Regions from separate parts of the Homo sapiens genome. Here region 2 is linked to region 1. A link means that fine-mapping ties the variant in region 1 to the expression of a gene that starts in the linked region. Tissue or cell type: whole blood. Region 1 holds a variant in brackets; the other region holds the start of a gene. All regions are shown on one strand. Distances are between the middles of the regions.

Region 1 (8,102 bases):
GTGACTCCCCCCCAACCCTGTGGCACCCCCTGTTTGTAGCAGAACCCCCACAGGCAATGGGATGGGGGGGATGGGGGGACACGGGGTCCCCTCTGTCAGCTCAGGGAGCTGCAGGGCTTAGGCACTGTCAGGGAGGTCCTGCCTGGAGTCTACCTTTTCCTCCCCAACCCTCTGCAGCCACCTCAATAGTCCGGACCCCACCTGGGACACAGGGAGATGCTTATCCCAGTCAGTGACTTGGGGACACTGAAGCATGTGTGTGTGTGTGTATACTGTGTGGGGGTGTATGGTGTGTGTGTGTGTACACTGGGGGTGTATGGTGTGTGTGTGTGTGTACACTGGGGGTGTATGGTGTGTGTGTGTATACTGTGTGGGGGTGTATGGTGTGTGTGTGTGTATACTGTGTGGGGGTGTATGTGTGTGTGTGTACACTGTGGGGGTGTATGGTGTGTGTGTGTGTATACTGTGTGGGGGTGTATGGTGTGTGTGTATACTGTGGGGGTGTATGGTGTGTGTGTGTGTACACTGGGGGTGTATGGTGTGTATGTGTGGGGGTGTATGGTGTGTGTGTACACTGTGTGGGGGTGTATGTTGTGTGTGCACAGTGTGCATGTGTGGTGAGTGCATGTGTACATGAGCACGTGTACAGTGTGTGCAGGTGTTCGGAGTACATGCCTGTATGTACTGTGTGGATGTGTGTACACGCATGTGTACACGTGTGTGCAGTGAGGGCCTGTGCATGCAGTATGAGTACATGTATGCAGTGAGTGCACATGCCTGCATGTACCGTGCAGATGTGTGTACATGCAGTGTGTGTGCACGTGAGTGCGTGTGTGCAGTGAGCGTGTGCAGTGAGTACGTGTGTATACTTTCGTGCACGTATGTGTGTGCATGCTGTACATGTGGTCTGTGTGCACGTGCAGTGTGTGTGTGTGTGTGAGAACCTGGGTGAGGACAGCTCCTGCAGACGGCTGCGGGGACTTCCCCACCAGGTGACGCAGCCTCGCCGGGTTTTGGCATCTTGTCCTTAGCAGCCCGGGTGTGTTGGGTGTCTCGGGGCGGGGGGACGAGCCTGATCCTCCTCATCCACTGACATCAGCTTAGGGACCCCAGGGGGTTCACGTGACAGGAAAGCAGTCAGGGCTCCAGAAGAAAGCGGGGGGCCTCTGTGGCCGTGGGTGGCACGCGAGGTTTGGGGGGCCTCTGACACCGGCCTCCTCGACGGCCCCTTGTCTCCTGGGCTTTCCTAGGGGTCTCTGGTCTGAAAATGTTGGCCCATCGTAGGAAGGTAAAATGTAGAAGCAGCCATGATGTCTGTATTTGGTTCATCTTCATTTTTCACATTTTAAAAAGTTCTCATTTAATCAGGGAGAACAGGCTCCCCAGGGCGCCCTATGCCTCTCTTTTTACATCCTCAGAGGAAGCCGTGGCCCCGCCTTAGCACCGGGAAAGGTGGAAACCCAGTTTTTCCCAAAAGCACAAGACAGCATTTCTGGAAATGTTGCAAAGGAGCTGAAGTGTCAGGGACACGTCACCGCATGAGGAGGCGGCCAAGGTGCCGGTGGGCATAAGGGAGAGGAGCGCGGACGCGGGAGGCCCCAGCATGCAGGAGTGAGGATGATGCCCCCAATGGGGAAGCTCGTGGCCCTCCTGCCAACCCCCCAGCCCCACCCCGTGACCTTGGACCTTAGACCCCCTGGGGAGCTGGGATCTTGCCGAGAGTCTCAACCCCATCACGGCAGGCCTGGGACCATCGCGGCTCCCACACCCACACATGACCCTAGTTGGGGTCTTGAGACTCCGGGGGCCCTGAGTACCCGTAGGGGCCGAGACGCAAGCCTCGGACGGCGGCCTGCTTTCCAACTTAACGCTGCGGCACGCGGCAGGCAGGTGGCCGAGACCTCTGTGTCCTCACAGTTCTAAGGAGGGAACTGTCTGCCCGGATCTAAGGAAGGAATTCTACATGCAGTTTCACCCCGATTTGCCTCACCCCTGCCACGGCTCCAACGCAGCCACGCGGCACCCCCAGACCCGGGCCCACGTGGCCGCTCCTCACAGTGACACGGGAGAGGGAGGCGGACCCCGCAGCACTGGGCGCGTCCTCACTGGGTGCTGCGATTCCCTGGCCGTGCCTCTGCCACCCTCCACGGCAGCTGCGCCCCCCAGGCCTGTGGTCCCCGCCGGACCCCACTCATGAGACTCCCGTCGGGTTAAAGGGAGCACAGGGTTTCAGAAGGACCCGGCGCGTGGTCATTTTACCTCTGGGAACTAGGGAAGGACGTTCGGCCTTCACCCTGGCGCTCCCTGGCGCCCTTGGGAAATGCCCCTTCGTGGACGCCGAATCCCCGCCACCCTCGGGATGTGCTGTTGCCCCGTGTCCCACCAGACCCTGGGTCTCAAGGCAGAGCCTGACCACAGCCTCTGGGGTCGGCCCCACCAACCCCGGCCCCGACCTCGGGCGCCTCCCGTGTTCCTGGCCTCTCAGGCGTCCCGGGGCCGGGCGGGGCTGACTCACTCGAGGACGCAGTGCGTGGCCGCCTGTGGGTGGTGGCGATACAGCAGGAGACTCTGGTCCACGCGGATGACGCCGCCGCCCTTCCTGAGGTGCTCGTAGAAGAACAGCAGGTCCTCCGGGACGCCCTGCAGGGCGGGAGAAGCAGAGGCATCACTGGGGCCCCAGAAACGCGTGCCTGCCCCGGATGCACACTACACCTGCGCTCAGCCGGCCAACCAGGAACCGGTGGAAAAGGCTTTTGTTGCAAAGAAACCGGTCTAGAGGCTCAACAGGGACGTGGGGCGGCGACCACAACAGACGTGAGCAACCGAGCTTCTCCACAGGCGGGAAAGAGGGGAAGGGAGGGTGGGCTGGGTCTTGGTTCTGCCCCAAATTCCATTTTGAGCAGTAAAGGTCTCAGGGCAAAGAGGAAGACAGGCAGCCGAGGAAAGGGGCTGGGGTGGGTCAGGGTCTCACAGCCACGGCTCCTGGATGGCTGGTCCGGCCTCCGTCCCCATCCTTTCCTGCCAGTGGCTGCAGCCCCAGAAGCTCAAGGGACTCAAAGTGCCGACTGTGGGCAGAGGACAGTGGTGCTGGGTGGGCGTGTGGGGCTGCGGGCAGGGGAGCCCAGCAGTGGGGAGGCAGCCCCGGGCCTGTGCCAGCCCTGCTCACTTGTCCAAGCTCAGAAACTTGAACCTCAGCCCACGGGGCTTATCCCCGAACACTCCCTCCATGTCAGTGGGACTCTGCTCCAGAACATTCTGCAGGCATTCCCACCAGACTTTTCTGTCCTGTGAGAACCTGGGCCCTGCTTTCCCCGGCCCATGATCCCAGTGGCCCCTGCCCTCTGCTTGCTCCTCTCCTGGGTGACCCCAATCCTCAGCCCAGGGCTCTGGGCCTTGTGTGGAGCCGGGCCCCTGTCGCTTTCTTAAATTCAAACAAAACTGAGGGAGGAGCAGGGCGTGGAGTCTGGTCTCCTCGTGGTTCTCTGCGGCAGCTCACCTGGGTCAGCCGCCCGGAGACACCTTTGCTCCAGGAAAGGGCAGGTTTTCTGAGAGCCTAGCAGCAGGGCCAGTCTATCACCAAGTCCAGCCTCTTCTCTCCTTGGCTGGTACACAAACTTCAAGTGCAGGTCAGTAAAGTCCCCAAACTATCACGGCCCAACCGCTGGCCTGTTTGCTCCCAGGACAGACAGGCAGTGCTATGGTTCCACGTCCAAAAAAAAGGCACTGTTTAACCTCCGCCTCTCCAGGGCGATCCCTTTTACAAAAACCACGATGACATGGAAAGATTTGTAAGAAGATGCTGAGTCAAAGAACAGACCTCAAAATCATGTGTCAGCCCTGCTAAAAGTTTATCCACCATAAGATAAAGACAAAGGAATCACAGAAGCCCACATGCTGTCTCACACGGGTGATTTAGGGTGGAGGGTCCCGCGGGTGCTGGTGGACACGGACCCTCACACGGGTGATTTAGGGTGGAGGCTCCCGCGGGTGCTGGTGGACACGGACCCTCACACGGGTGATTTAGGGTGGAGGTTCCTGTGGGTGCTGGTGGGCACGGACCCTCACACGGGTGATTTAGGGTGGAGGCTCCCGCGGGTGCTGGTGGACACGGACCCTCGCAGGGGTCACTGAGGTATTTTCTTTAATTTTCTGTGTCTTCAAAGGCAGCTCTAAAGAGCACTGGAACTCTCAACATGTTACAGGTTTAAGAAGAGAAAAAAGGTTTCTCTCTTCCTATCACCAGAAGAGCCCGACCCTTGGGGTTTTCTTATTTTCTGGCAGTAAAGTGAGAATTTAGTCAACAGCCGCTCCCGGGTGGTGCCTCTGCCCTGGGAGGAGGGGGACGCAGAGGATCTGTCCCATTTTTCTCCCCTCCCCTGATTGCTGCTGCTGAGACCTGAGAGGCCCGAAATGGCCTCACTCCTCCCCCAGGCTTTTCCCAATCAGCCTCCAGGTGCCTGGACTGCCCTGTGGTGTGGAGGACCCCTGGCGGGGCGCAGGGAGAGGGGGAGGGGTCACAACCCAGAAAGGCATCAGGGAAGAAGCCGAGTGGAGGAAGTGTGGCCGCCGCCCAGCCCCAATCTGCTCACAGAACCATCCTCGGGCAGCCTT[G/T]GGGGATGGAGCACCCAGAACTGCCTGGAGGAGAAAAGCGTGAGCTAAAGCCACTCCCAGGAAGGCCGGGCCAGAGGCTGTGGAGACTCGGATCCTGAGGCAAAAGGAAGCCGAGTCAGGGACGCGCTTCCTTCCCCAGGGCTCGTCCCCAGCGCCACCCGCCCTTCTCTAGAGCCCCATCCCCAGCGCGAACCTCCAGGAGGAAGCAGCAGTCACCACGCGGGGACAGAAGGGGGAGAGCTCGAGCCAGGGCCCAGCGATTGGAGTCCGCGGAACGCAGGGACATGAAGTCCAGCAGAGAAAACTAAAAACTGGCAACACTTCCATGGATAAAAATTCAGCCTCTCCCTCTACAATAGCAACAAACCCCAAACCAGGAAACAGAGACCCCTGTAAATAACCCACCAAGATAAATTCCACACCCTCCACCAGTGTTTCAGGCTACAGGGTGGGATATGCGGGGAGGTGGCGGAGACCCATCTTGAATCAGAAATTCAAGGACTAAGTGCAAAACTGGACCCTAATGGGGTGGGTCTAGAGCATTGAAGAAAGTGCATTAGTGCTTGGCTAGGGCTGGCAGGTGGCTGTTAGATGAGGTGCGCCCCTGGGTGCAGGAAGTGTTTTTTGGGGGATGACAACTTCCTAACATTAGATGGTAGTGGTGACTGGTGATTGTACAGCCCTATAAATTTGCTAAAAAAAAATTGAATTGCACATTTTAATAGGTGAATTGTATGGCATGTGAATTATACCTCAATAAAGCTTTTATATAAAATTGGATCGATTTAACTAAAAAAAGAAATTTTAAGAAGAGACAAAATTGGTTGGGTGTGGTGGCTCATGCCTTTAATCTCAGCACTTTGGAAGGCTGAGGTCGGGGGGGTGGATTGCTTGAGCCCAGGAGTTCGAGACCAGCCTGGGCAACATGTCGAAACCAGTCTCTACCAAAAATAGGAAAAAAGTAGCTGGGCATGGTTGTGTGCACCTGTAGTCTCAGCTACTCAGGAGGCTGAGGTACAAGGATTGCTTGAACCTGGGAGGCAGAGGTTGTAGTGAGTGAGCCACTGCACTCCAGCCTCAGGAACAGAGTGAGACCCTGTCTCAAAAAAAAAAAAAAAAAAAAGGAACAAAATATATGAAAAATGAAGACTAAATTACAAAATCCTTAAGAGAAAATGATTTTAATTAAAAATTTAATAAGGGACACTGAAGAAAGGAAAATAGAAATTATATAATGAAAGAAGTGAAAAGGGTTAGAAAGACTAAGAAAATCTAACCAACATAGAATTGGAGTTTTTAAAACACAAAAAACAATAGACATAGCTAGTATTTAAAACGGACGCCTACAGGTGCGTCCCACGGGGGATGGGGACACGGACGCCTGCAGGTGCACCCCCACGGGGGGACGGGGACACGGACGCCTGCAGGTGCACCCCACGGGGAGGACGGAGACATGGATGCCTGCAGGTGCACCCCCACGGGGAGGACGGGGACACGGACGCCTACAGGTGCACCCCCACGGGGGGGACGGGGACACAGACGCCTGCAGGTGCACCCCCACGGGGGGACGGGGACACGGACGCCTGCAGGTGCACCCCCACGGGGGGGACGGGGACACGGACGCCTGCAGGTGCACCCCCACGGGGGGATGGGGACACGGACGCCTGCAGGTGCACCCCACGGGGAGGACGGGGACACGGACGCCTGCAGGTGCACCCCCACGGGGGGGACGGTGACACGGACGCCTGCAGGTGCACCCCCACGGGAGGACGGGGACACGGACGCCTGCAGGTGCACCCCCACAGGAGAACGGGGACATGGATGCCTGAACGTGCACTCCCACAGGGAGGACGGGGACATGGACACCTGCAGGTGCACACCCACAGGGAGGACGGGGACATGGACGCCTGCAGGTGCACCCCCATGGGGAGGACGGGGACACGGATGCCTGCAGGTGCACCCCCATGGGGAGGACGGGGACACAGACACCTGCAGGTGCACTCCCACGGGGGGGATGGGGACACAGACGCCTGCAGGTGCACTCCCACGGGGGGGACGGGGACATGGACGCCTGCAGGTGCACCCCCATGGGGGGGACGGGGACACAGACGCCTGCAGGTGCACCCCCGGGGGGAGGATGGGCTCCCCTTCTCCCTCTGTTGTCCCAGAGACAGCTCTGCCAAAAGCTTCCGTGTCCTGCGCTTTCCCAGACACAGCTTTTAAACCAGGATGCAGTAACCTGGAGCCAGTGTAGGTCAGGTGCAGATGCCCAGGGCACCCACAGCCTTCATGCAGAAACCCCCTGCTTTCAGCAAAACAACTAAGATGCTGGCAGGTGCCAGGAGGGGGCACCGGGAGGACCCTCAGGCAGGGGTTTCCTAAATCTGCAGAGCCCCGGAGGCATGGCAAGGCGGAGGGTGGCCAGTGTGCAGAGCCCACACACAGAGACAGGGCCCCGAACCTGGGGGAGGGACCTGATTCCCGCCTTCGGCCCTTACCTGACCTCCCTCGTTAAAGGGGCCCACGTGGGAGAACCACGCTCGCGAGCAGAACCAGGTGGGCATGATCACCGTGGGGCCATTTGAGGTGAAAACCTAGAAGCAATTAACGTTGACAGAGTTAGCGGAAAAGAACAGCTTGTCACAAACAACCTGCAGTTTATTTCCACAAAGTGTCACGAGAAAGTGACAGATGAATCCGTGTCCCTTCTCCACAGGGTCAGGGCCTCAAGAGACTTCACCACGGGGCCGACGTGTCCCTTCTCCACAGGGACGGGGCTCAAGGGGCTTCATGACGTGGCTGACGTGTCCCTTCTCCAGTGCTGTGATCATCACTCACTGTAGCCTTGACCTCCTCAAGCAATCCTCCTATCTCAGCCTCCCAGGTAGCTGGGACCACAGGCGTGTGCCACCACACCTGGCTGATTTTTACTTTTTTTTTTTTTTTGTAGAGATGTTTGTCACTCTGTTGCTCAGGCTGACCTCAAACCCCTGGCCTCAAGCGATCCTCCCACCTGAACCTCCCAAGCAGCTAGGACTATAGGCGCACACCACCGTGCCTGGCTATTTTCTTACATTTCTTTTGTAGAGATGGGGTCTCACTACACTGCTCAGGCTGGTCTTAAACTCCCGGCCTCAAGCGATCCTCCCAGCTCAGCCTCCCAAAGTGCTGGGATTACAGGTGTGAGCCATCATGCCTGGCTCAACGGAGATTCTAAAATGTATATAGAAACACAAAGGACCTAGGAGAGCCAGCACAATTTTGAAAACCATGAACAAAGTTGAAGTTTCATGACTGTATTTCAAGATTTACTACAAAGCTATGGTGATCAAGGTTGATTGGTATCAGCTTATGGGCAGACAGACAAACGGAACAGAACAGAGACCAGAAGCAGAGCCGCCTGGCTGGGGTTTGATGTTTGCTGAAGACATCAGGGGCGTCAGTGGTGGAAATGAGAGATGGCGCTGGAACCACTGGTGTCCTTACAAACC
Region 2 (8,093 bases), 210 kb before region 1:
GGTCCCGGCTACAGGTGGGCACGGCAGTGACTTCTCTGGGAAAGAGCTGGTCCTCTCATGATCCCGCCGCATTTGTGCGGGTTCATCTGTAAAACGGAGCTGGAGCAGGGAACACTGAGTCCTGGAGCACACATCAGGGAGGAAGGGGGGCAGGGGCGGGGGTTCCCCCAAAAGGGAGTCCGAAAGGAGTGAGGAGTGAAGACACACTTGGCTCCTCGTGCCCCTCTCCACTGCTAGGTCACCAGGTATTTAGCCTCAGACTTTCCTCATGTGAAACACAGGTGCTTGTAAATGGTGGTGTTTACCATGATTACTGTTCTTACTATCAGTAACACTTGTCCACTCCATCGTGTTCCTCTCCCATGGGAAGATGTGGGTACCAGATGATCCAGAATGACTGATTTCAAAACATAACTCTCGGCCGGGCACAGTGGTTCACGCCTGTAATCGCAGCATTTGGGAGGCCTAGGTGGGCAGATCACTTGAGGTCAGGAGTTTGAGACCAGCCTGGCCAACATGGTGAAACCCTGTCTGTACTAAAAATGCAAAAATTAACCGTGCATGGTGGTGCATGCCTGTAATCCCAGCTACTCAGGAGGCTGAGGCAGGAGAATCACTTGAACCCGGGAGGCGGAGGCTGCAGTGAGGGGAGATTGCACCATTGCACTCCAGCCTGGACGACAGAGTGAGATCCTGTATCAAAAAGAAAAAAAATCAAAATATAACTCTCAAAATGTTAAAAAAGAATGTGCATGTCAATCCAGAGTGAGTATACATCAAAGAGACTTGAACTCATTAATGAAGAAACTAGGCTGGGCACGGTGGCTCAAGCCTGTAATCCTAGCACTTTGGGAGGCCGAGGTGGATAGATTTTACCTGAGGTCAGGATTTCAAGACCAGACTGGCCAATATGGTGAAACCCCATCTCTACTAAAAATACAAAAATTAGCCGGGTGTAGTGGCGGGTGCCTGTAATCCCAGCTACTCAGTAGGCTGAGGCAGGAGAATCACTTGAATCCGGGAGGCGGAGGTTGCAGTGAGCCGAGATGGCGCCACTGCACTCCAGCCTGGGTGACAGAGCAAGATTCCCTCTCAAAGAAAAAAACAACAAAACCAAACAAAACCTGCAGACATATATGTGTAGCGAAATAAAAGTGGCCAGAGTTTGCTAAGGTAGCGCAACACTGGTTCCTATTCTGTGGGTCGATTAAAACTATAACCTCAGAGGTTCTCCACTGTGTGGGGATTCTAGACCTAAATTAGGAGGAAATCCTAAGTTAGACAAAGCTAGACTCCCCTGAAGTCAGGTGGCCCCTATTTCTGGGCTTGGCAGGCAGTGCTGGGGCTGGACACCGAAGCAGATCGCGAGTGGGCTTTGCCTTATTTCCAAGAACGAGGTGATGAGACCGGGGCTCCCAGAGGCCAGCGATAACTGCAGCCGTTGCTCTCGTAGGTGAAGATCCCGGATCTGTTTTGTGGCCTAGAGATTGTCCCCGCGTTGCTCCACGGGGATCTCTGGTCGGGAAACGTGGCTGAGGACGACGTGGGGCCCATTATTTACGACCCGGCTTCCTTCTATGGCCATTCCGAGTTTGAACTGGCAATCGCCTTGATGTTTGGGGGGTTCCCCAGATCCTTCTTCACCGCCTACCACCGGAAGATCCCCAAGGCTCCGGGCTTCGACCAGCGGCTGCTGCTCTACCAGCTGTTTAACTACCTGAACCACTGGAACCACTTCGGGCGGGAGTACAGGAGCCCTTCCTTGGGCACCATGCGAAGGCTGCTCAAGTAGCGGCCCCTGCCCTCCCTTCCCCTGTCCCCGTCCCCGTCTCCGTCTCCCCGTCCCTGTCCCCCCGTCCCCCGTCCCTGTGCCCCCGTCCCTGTCCCCCTGTTCCCGTCTCCCCGTCCCTCCGTCTCCATCCCCCCGTCCCCCCATCCTCCTGTCCCCGTCCCCCCGTCCCCGTCCCTCCATCCCTGTCCCCCGTCCCCCTGTCCCCCTGTCCACATACCAATCCCCCTGTCCCCGACCCCCCATCCCCGTCCCCCATCTCCGTCCCCGTCCCCCCTGCCCCGTCCCCGTCTCCGTTCCCCCGTCCCCATCCTCCATCCCCGTCTCCCATCGCCGTCCCCCCGTCCCCGTCCCCCGTCCCCGTCCCCCCTGTCCCTGTCCCCCTTCCCCCGACCCCTCCCAGATCCTGGGGACCAATAAAGCCCGCAGCGGGTCTCGGCTGGCGTCCTGCGCCTCGTTCCTCCGCTCGTGGGGCTGCTTTCAGGGCCAGACGCACGGCGAGCTGTGCACGGACGTTTTTGCGGCGATTCAGGGGAAACGCACGCGGACCCGGTAGCCAAGGCCAAAGTCGGCGCAGCGCCCACCGCGGCCTCCGGGCCCCGCTCCCGCTCCCGCTCTGGGGCGCGCCACCACTCGGCGCGGGGCCCGTGTGATCCGCGCGGGTCCCAGCGTGGCGCGAATAAGTGTCAGGGCGGTTGGCTCTGAGGGGTGGGTCCCGGGGCTCGCCTCGCGCCCCCGACTGCGTGCTCAGGCCCCGCCCCTCCCCGTCCACGCATGCTGAGGCTCCGCCCCGCTCCGCGGTCCCCCGGTCCCACCCGCCCCCGCCCCGCCCCCGCCCCGCCCCCCGGCGTGTTGTGGCTCCGCCCCGCTGTCTCCGGCCCCACCGCAAGCCCTGCCCCTCCCACCCACGCGTGCCCGGGCCCCGCCCCCGTTGCGCGCAGCCCCGCCCCCTATCGCGTGCTCAAGCCCCGCCCTGGCGGCCCCCGGCCCCATCCCGAAGCCCCGCCCCCCCGCACACCGCCTGCTCAGGCTCCGCCCCGCTGTCCTCCGGCGGCGGCCTCACCCCGCAGCCCGGCCCACCGCGTCTCAGGCCCCACCTCCTGTCCTGCCCCGCCCACCGCGTGCTCAGGCCCCGCTGAGCGGTCCCGGCTCCGCTCGCGCCCTGTGGGGTCCACGGCGCGCTCTTCCAGAGCCTTTGGGACCCGTGCCCGCTCGCGTCCTCAAGTGCACGCGCCGTCCCGCGCGCGGTATTTTGGCGGCCGACGCGTTCCGTAGCGAGGCCGGCGAGTGGGGTCGGAGGTCGCGGGGCGGGGCCAGCGTCGGTTGCCGCCTTAGCGGGCGCCTCCTTTTCATCCCTCATCCTTCATCCCTGGCTTTCGCGCTCTAGCGGAGTGGGATCTGCGAACACGTGAGGCGGGGGCGCGGTCCCCAGGCTGCCGAGATGGCCCTGAGCGACGAACCGGCCGCGGGCGGCCCCGAGGAGGAGGCGGAGGACGAGACACTGGCCTTTGGCGCGGCGCTGGAAGCGTTCGGCGAGAGCGCGGAGACCCGGGCGCTGCTGGGCCGCCTGCGGGAGGTGCACGGCGGCGGCGCGGAGCGCGAGGTGGCCCTGGAGCGGTTCCGCGGTGCGTGGGCGGCGCCGCGTGCCCGCTTCCTCCCCCGGCCCGGGTTCGGCGCGCTGAGTGCACTTTACCGGGCGGGGACCGCAGCCCGGCGGCGCCGGCCGCTCTGCGAGGGCTGCCGGTGCGCGGTCCCGCGGGCCGTGGTGGGGCGCGGCCTTCCTAGGCGGGAGAGGGCCACCCCGGCGCGGCGTTAGGTGCACGGGGCAGACGCGCGCCTCCCTTGGGGGGACCGTGGCCCGCGGAGCGCCTGCTCTCGCACGGGGTGAAGCCTCTGCGGCCTCCCCGGGAGGCGGGGTGCAGAAGCCCTCCGTCCCCCGTCTCCGTCACTGGAGGAGGTCCCTGGGCTGGGGAGACTCGGGCCAGACCCCTCCGGACAGCTGGTCAGCCCTGCAGTGTGGACTCCCAGGCTTGCCTCCACCGAGCGCGGTTTCTGTGAATGTTGTGTGGACAGGGAGATAGGGAATGAGAGAGGGGGACGCAGGGAACAAACCTGCTGCAAACAAAGCGCGCCTCGGGTGGGGAGGGCAGCAGCCTGTCCGTTCCGTGGACGCCGTGGACAGAGCGGGCTGGCCGGGTCCGTGCCTCTGCAGGCGGGGTGGGGTGTAGGTACCCCTGTGGAGGCCATTCGATGAGTCTAAATTCTCCGAGTTCAGACCCACCTTTACCGCTGTCTATAATGGGTTATTTCCAAACAAGTCCTTAGGAGCTCATAGCTAAGTAGTTACATGGGGTTTTGTAATTCAGTAAAATCATCTTTGTAGACCCTTTGAGTAAGAAGAACTTTTGCATTATTTGGCCTTCCTCATTTTAGAATGACAGCGCTTTGATTTTAGGAGTCAGGCAGGGTGGGGGGCCTTGTGGGAGGAGTGCGGGTTCGGCGTCAGATCCTCCTGCCTGTGAATTCTGGCCCTGTCGCTTGGACCTGATACTTGATTGCCTGTTTCTTCGGGTGTAAGCTGGGGCGGATAACGATGCCTCTCGTGCAGAACTGTTCTGAGGGTGAGGGACCCTCATCCAGGGACCAGTGAAGCCAGATTTTTTGTTCCTGGTGTAACAGCCCAATGGCTTCTTCCTTTTTTTTTTTTTTTTTTTTTTGATACGAAGTCTTGCTCTGTTGCCCAGGCTGGAGTGCAGTGCAGTGGTGCGATCTTGGCTCACTGCAACCTCAACCTCTCAGGTTCAAGCTATTCTCCTGTCTTAGCCTCCCGAGTAGCTGGGGCTACAGGCGCGCGCCACCACGCCCGGCTAATTTTGTATTTTTAGTAGAGGGGGTTTCACCATGTTGGTCAGGCTGGTCTCAAACTCCTGACCTCAAGTGGTCGCCCGACTCAGCCTCCCAAAGTGTTGAGATTACAGGTGTGAGCCACTGCGCTCGGCCCCAGTGGGTTCTTTCTGCGGGCTGCCCAGATAGAGTTGATTTGTCAGGGCAGGGGAGTTGCCATGGAGAAGATTTAGTTCACGCAGAGCCGGTTGAAAGGGAGACTAGACTAGAGGTTTTTTTTTTTTTTTTTGAGGCGGAGTCTCACTTTGTCCCCCAGGGTGGAGTGCAGTGATGAGATCTCAGCTCACTGCAACCTCCACAACCTCCACCTCCCAGGTTCAAGTGATTCTCCTGCCTCAGCCTCCCGAGTAGCTGGGACTACAGGTGCGCGCCACCACGCCCACCTAATTTTTCGTATTATTAGTAGTGACGGGTTTCATCGTGTTAGCCAGGATGGTCTCGATCTCCTGACCTCGTGATCCACCCGCCTCAGCCTCCCAAAGTGAGCCACCACGCCCGGCTGGAGTTTTATTATTACTCAGATCAGTCTCCCTGAGAATTTGAGGGCCAGGGTTTTTTAGAGGTAATCTGGGGGAAAGGGTGGGGGTGGCTGATTGGTTAGGGGTATACAATCATAGGGGAGTCGGAAATGATCCTCCGTGATGTGCTGAATCGCGTCTGCGTGGGGCCCCAGGAGCAGTGGGCGGGTCCAGGTGGAGCTATCATGGGTCCGTGGATCCTAGTGTAGGTGTCAGACATGGAAACAATCTGAAAAGATATCTTTAAAGGCCAGTCTCAGGTTCTGCAATAGTGACATGGTCTGCAGGAGTAACTGGGGAACTCGCATGTCTTGTGATCTCAAGAATAATGGCTGGCAATTAGGTTACGCCTTAGCGGAATTCAGGCTCCTCTCCTCCTCCTAGCCTGGTGGCCTCTCATTAACTTTACAAAGGCAGTTGAGTTTTGGGGAAGGGCTCTTAGCATTTAAACTATAAATTAAATGTCTCCCAGAGGTAGCTTGGCAGCTTGAAGACTAAAGGCATGAGGGGGTTGCCTGGATCAGATCTGCCCCATTGCCATAATTTCCTCACAGATCACTTTTGCAAAGGCAGTTTTGCTGGGAAGCAGTGGGTGTGTTCAGATGTGGAGGTGGGAGCTGCCGGATTGGACAGAAGCAGTTTCAGCTGCTGAGAGGAGGAGAAAGCGGTGGTTCAGGGTCTGGGAGGTTGTGAAGAGCTGGCAGCTGTGTGGAAGGGAGCAGTGCCTGGATATGTCAACCAAAAAGTATCTGAGACGAGTCTCAATCAGTTTAGAAGGTTAAGGGTGTGCCCGTGAGGCAGCCTCAGGAGGTCACATGTCCCCAAGGAAGTCGGGCTACAGCTTAGTTTTACACGTTTTAGGGAGACGTGAGACATCAATCAATACCTGTAAGATGTACATTGGTCTCGTCAGGGAAGGCGGGACATCTTGGGTGGGAGGGCGTCCAGGGCATTGGTGGATTCAAATATTTCACGATTGGTGATTGGTTGAAAGAGTTTATCTGAAGACCTGGAATCCATAGAAGGGATTGTCTAGGTTAAGATAAATTGTGGAGACCAAGGTTTTTCTTATGCAGATGAAGGTTCCAGTTAGCTGGTTTCAGAGAGAATAGATTGTAAATGCTTTTCATCAGACTAAAAAGGTACCAGACTTAGTTAATTTTCTCTTGGATCAGGGAAAAGACCTAGAAAAGGAAGGGATTCTCTACAGAATGTAGCTTTTCCCAGCAAGAGACAACTTAGCAGAACCATTTCAAAATATGTCAAATATATTTTAGGGAAAAATATTTTGATTTCTTTCAGGGCCTGCTGTCTGTCATGTGATGCTGTACTAGAGTCAGGCTGGAATTTGGTGTCTTATTGCTACTTAAGATCGGTTTTAATGCTAATACTGATCAGCTGTGCCTGAATTCCAACGAGAGGAGGGTATAATGAGGCCTATGTGGACCACTCCCCACAATCCCTTAATATCATGAGGCCTGAACTAGTTTTTCAGGTTAAGTTTGGAATGCCCTTGGCCAAGAGGAGGGGTCTGTTAGATGGCTAGGGGGCTTAGAATTTTGTTTTTAGTTTACAGGCATGTTTGGCAGGGGAGTGTGAGAGGAGTGCCAGGGATGTGTGTCTCACAAGGACAGAGTTGAGCTTGGCCCTTAACGGCTGGCAGAGGCAGGAGAGAGTGAAGGAAGGAAGAGGCGAGGAGGAGACTCTGTTAGGAAGAGTATCGAGGCAGTGGGAAAAGAGGAACAGTGTGCCAAGCAAGTAAACTGCACGAGGCTGGGCCACAGTGGCCCTCAAAAGGCTAGAGGGAGGTGGGGCATTCCCTCCAGGTGGCCTGTGTGGCCTCCTTTAGTGAGAGGGGAGGTGTGCTCTTGAGAGCTGGGGAAGAGGTGGAGCTGCCCTGTGGAAGCTAGCAAGGGAAAATGGGGTTTCTGAGGCTCATGGGTATGTTTGGCCTAGTGATAATTAATTTTCATGTTATATTTGTTTTTAGTAATAATGGACAAATACCAGGAGCAGCCTCATCTGTTGGACCCGCACCTTGGTAAGAATAGAAGCTGCTGATTTTGATCATTCAGTTACAGATGACCACGGAGGCCTTGGTGTGTGGTGCTGGCACATGCATGTGCTTTGCCAGGATCAAATGCCAAGAAGTGTCCCTGTCTTGCTTGCCTGGCTGGTTGGTTTTAGCCGACCTGTGATAGTGGCTTGAGTTCCAGATGTCACTCTAGGCTGGGGGGAGATGTGTCTGAGCTACTTAATTCCTTTCTGCTAAGGAAACAACATCTGCTCCTCATGTGTTTTTTTTGTTTTTTTTTCTTTTTTTTGAGACGGAGTCTCGCTCTGTCTCCAGGCTAGAGTGCTGTGGCGCGATCTCAGCTCACTGCATCCTCCAGCTCCCTGGTTCAAGGGATTCTCCTGCCTCTGCCTCCCGAGTAGCTGGGATTACAGGCATGCGCCACCATGCCCAGCTAATTTTTGTATTTTTAGTAGAGACGGGGTTTCACTATGTTGGCCAGGATGGTCTTGATCTCCTGACCTCGTGATCCGCCTGCCTCGGCCTCCCAAAGTGCTGGGATTACAGGCGTGAGCCACCGCGCCTGGCCTCCTCAAGTGTTTTTAGTTTACATTAGTTTATTATTTTAGTTTACATTTGGGCACATGATGTTTTTCTGGTAATAGTCATACAGGGTCAGGTGTTTTACATGGGTCATCATTTAATCCTCACAGCAGCTAAGGAGGGCATCTGTTGTCATCTCCAGTTTACAGATGGGGACACTGAGGCTCGGTTTTCTTACTTTAGTGTAAGGGGTGTGGTTTCTTATTGTTTTCTTTATTTTTGATGTATTTCACACTGATTAAAATTTTTCTTTTTCTACCTACAA

What was found. PIP is the estimated chance that this variant, and not a neighbour inherited with it, causes the effect.
Region 2: TBCD starts here. The variant in region 1 is fine-mapped to the expression of TBCD in whole blood (TOPMed, PIP above 0.99).

The regions. Positions count from the first base shown.
Region 1 is chr17:82,958,542-82,966,643 of GRCh38, forward strand. It overlaps QTGAL (queuosine-tRNA galactosyltransferase), which reads right to left. Exons shown (of 13, transcript NM_001009905.3): 7 at 7,110-7,205; 8 at 2,516-2,640. Among named protein-coding and RNA genes, the nearest start is that of QTGAL, 89 kb to the right of the region's middle. The variant G/T (reference allele first, on the strand shown) is at 4,612.
Region 2 is chr17:82,748,964-82,757,056 of GRCh38, forward strand. TBCD (tubulin folding cofactor D) reads left to right here and starts at 3,102. Exons shown (of 39, transcript NM_005993.5): 1 at 3,102-3,414; 2 at 7,202-7,252. The coding sequence starts at 3,231. It overlaps FN3K (fructosamine 3 kinase), which reads left to right. Exons shown (of 6, transcript NM_022158.4): 5 at 1-14; 6 at 1,454-2,233. The coding sequence ends at 1,792. RefSeq lists silencers at 2,294-2,653, 3,344-3,663 and an enhancer at 6,010-6,304.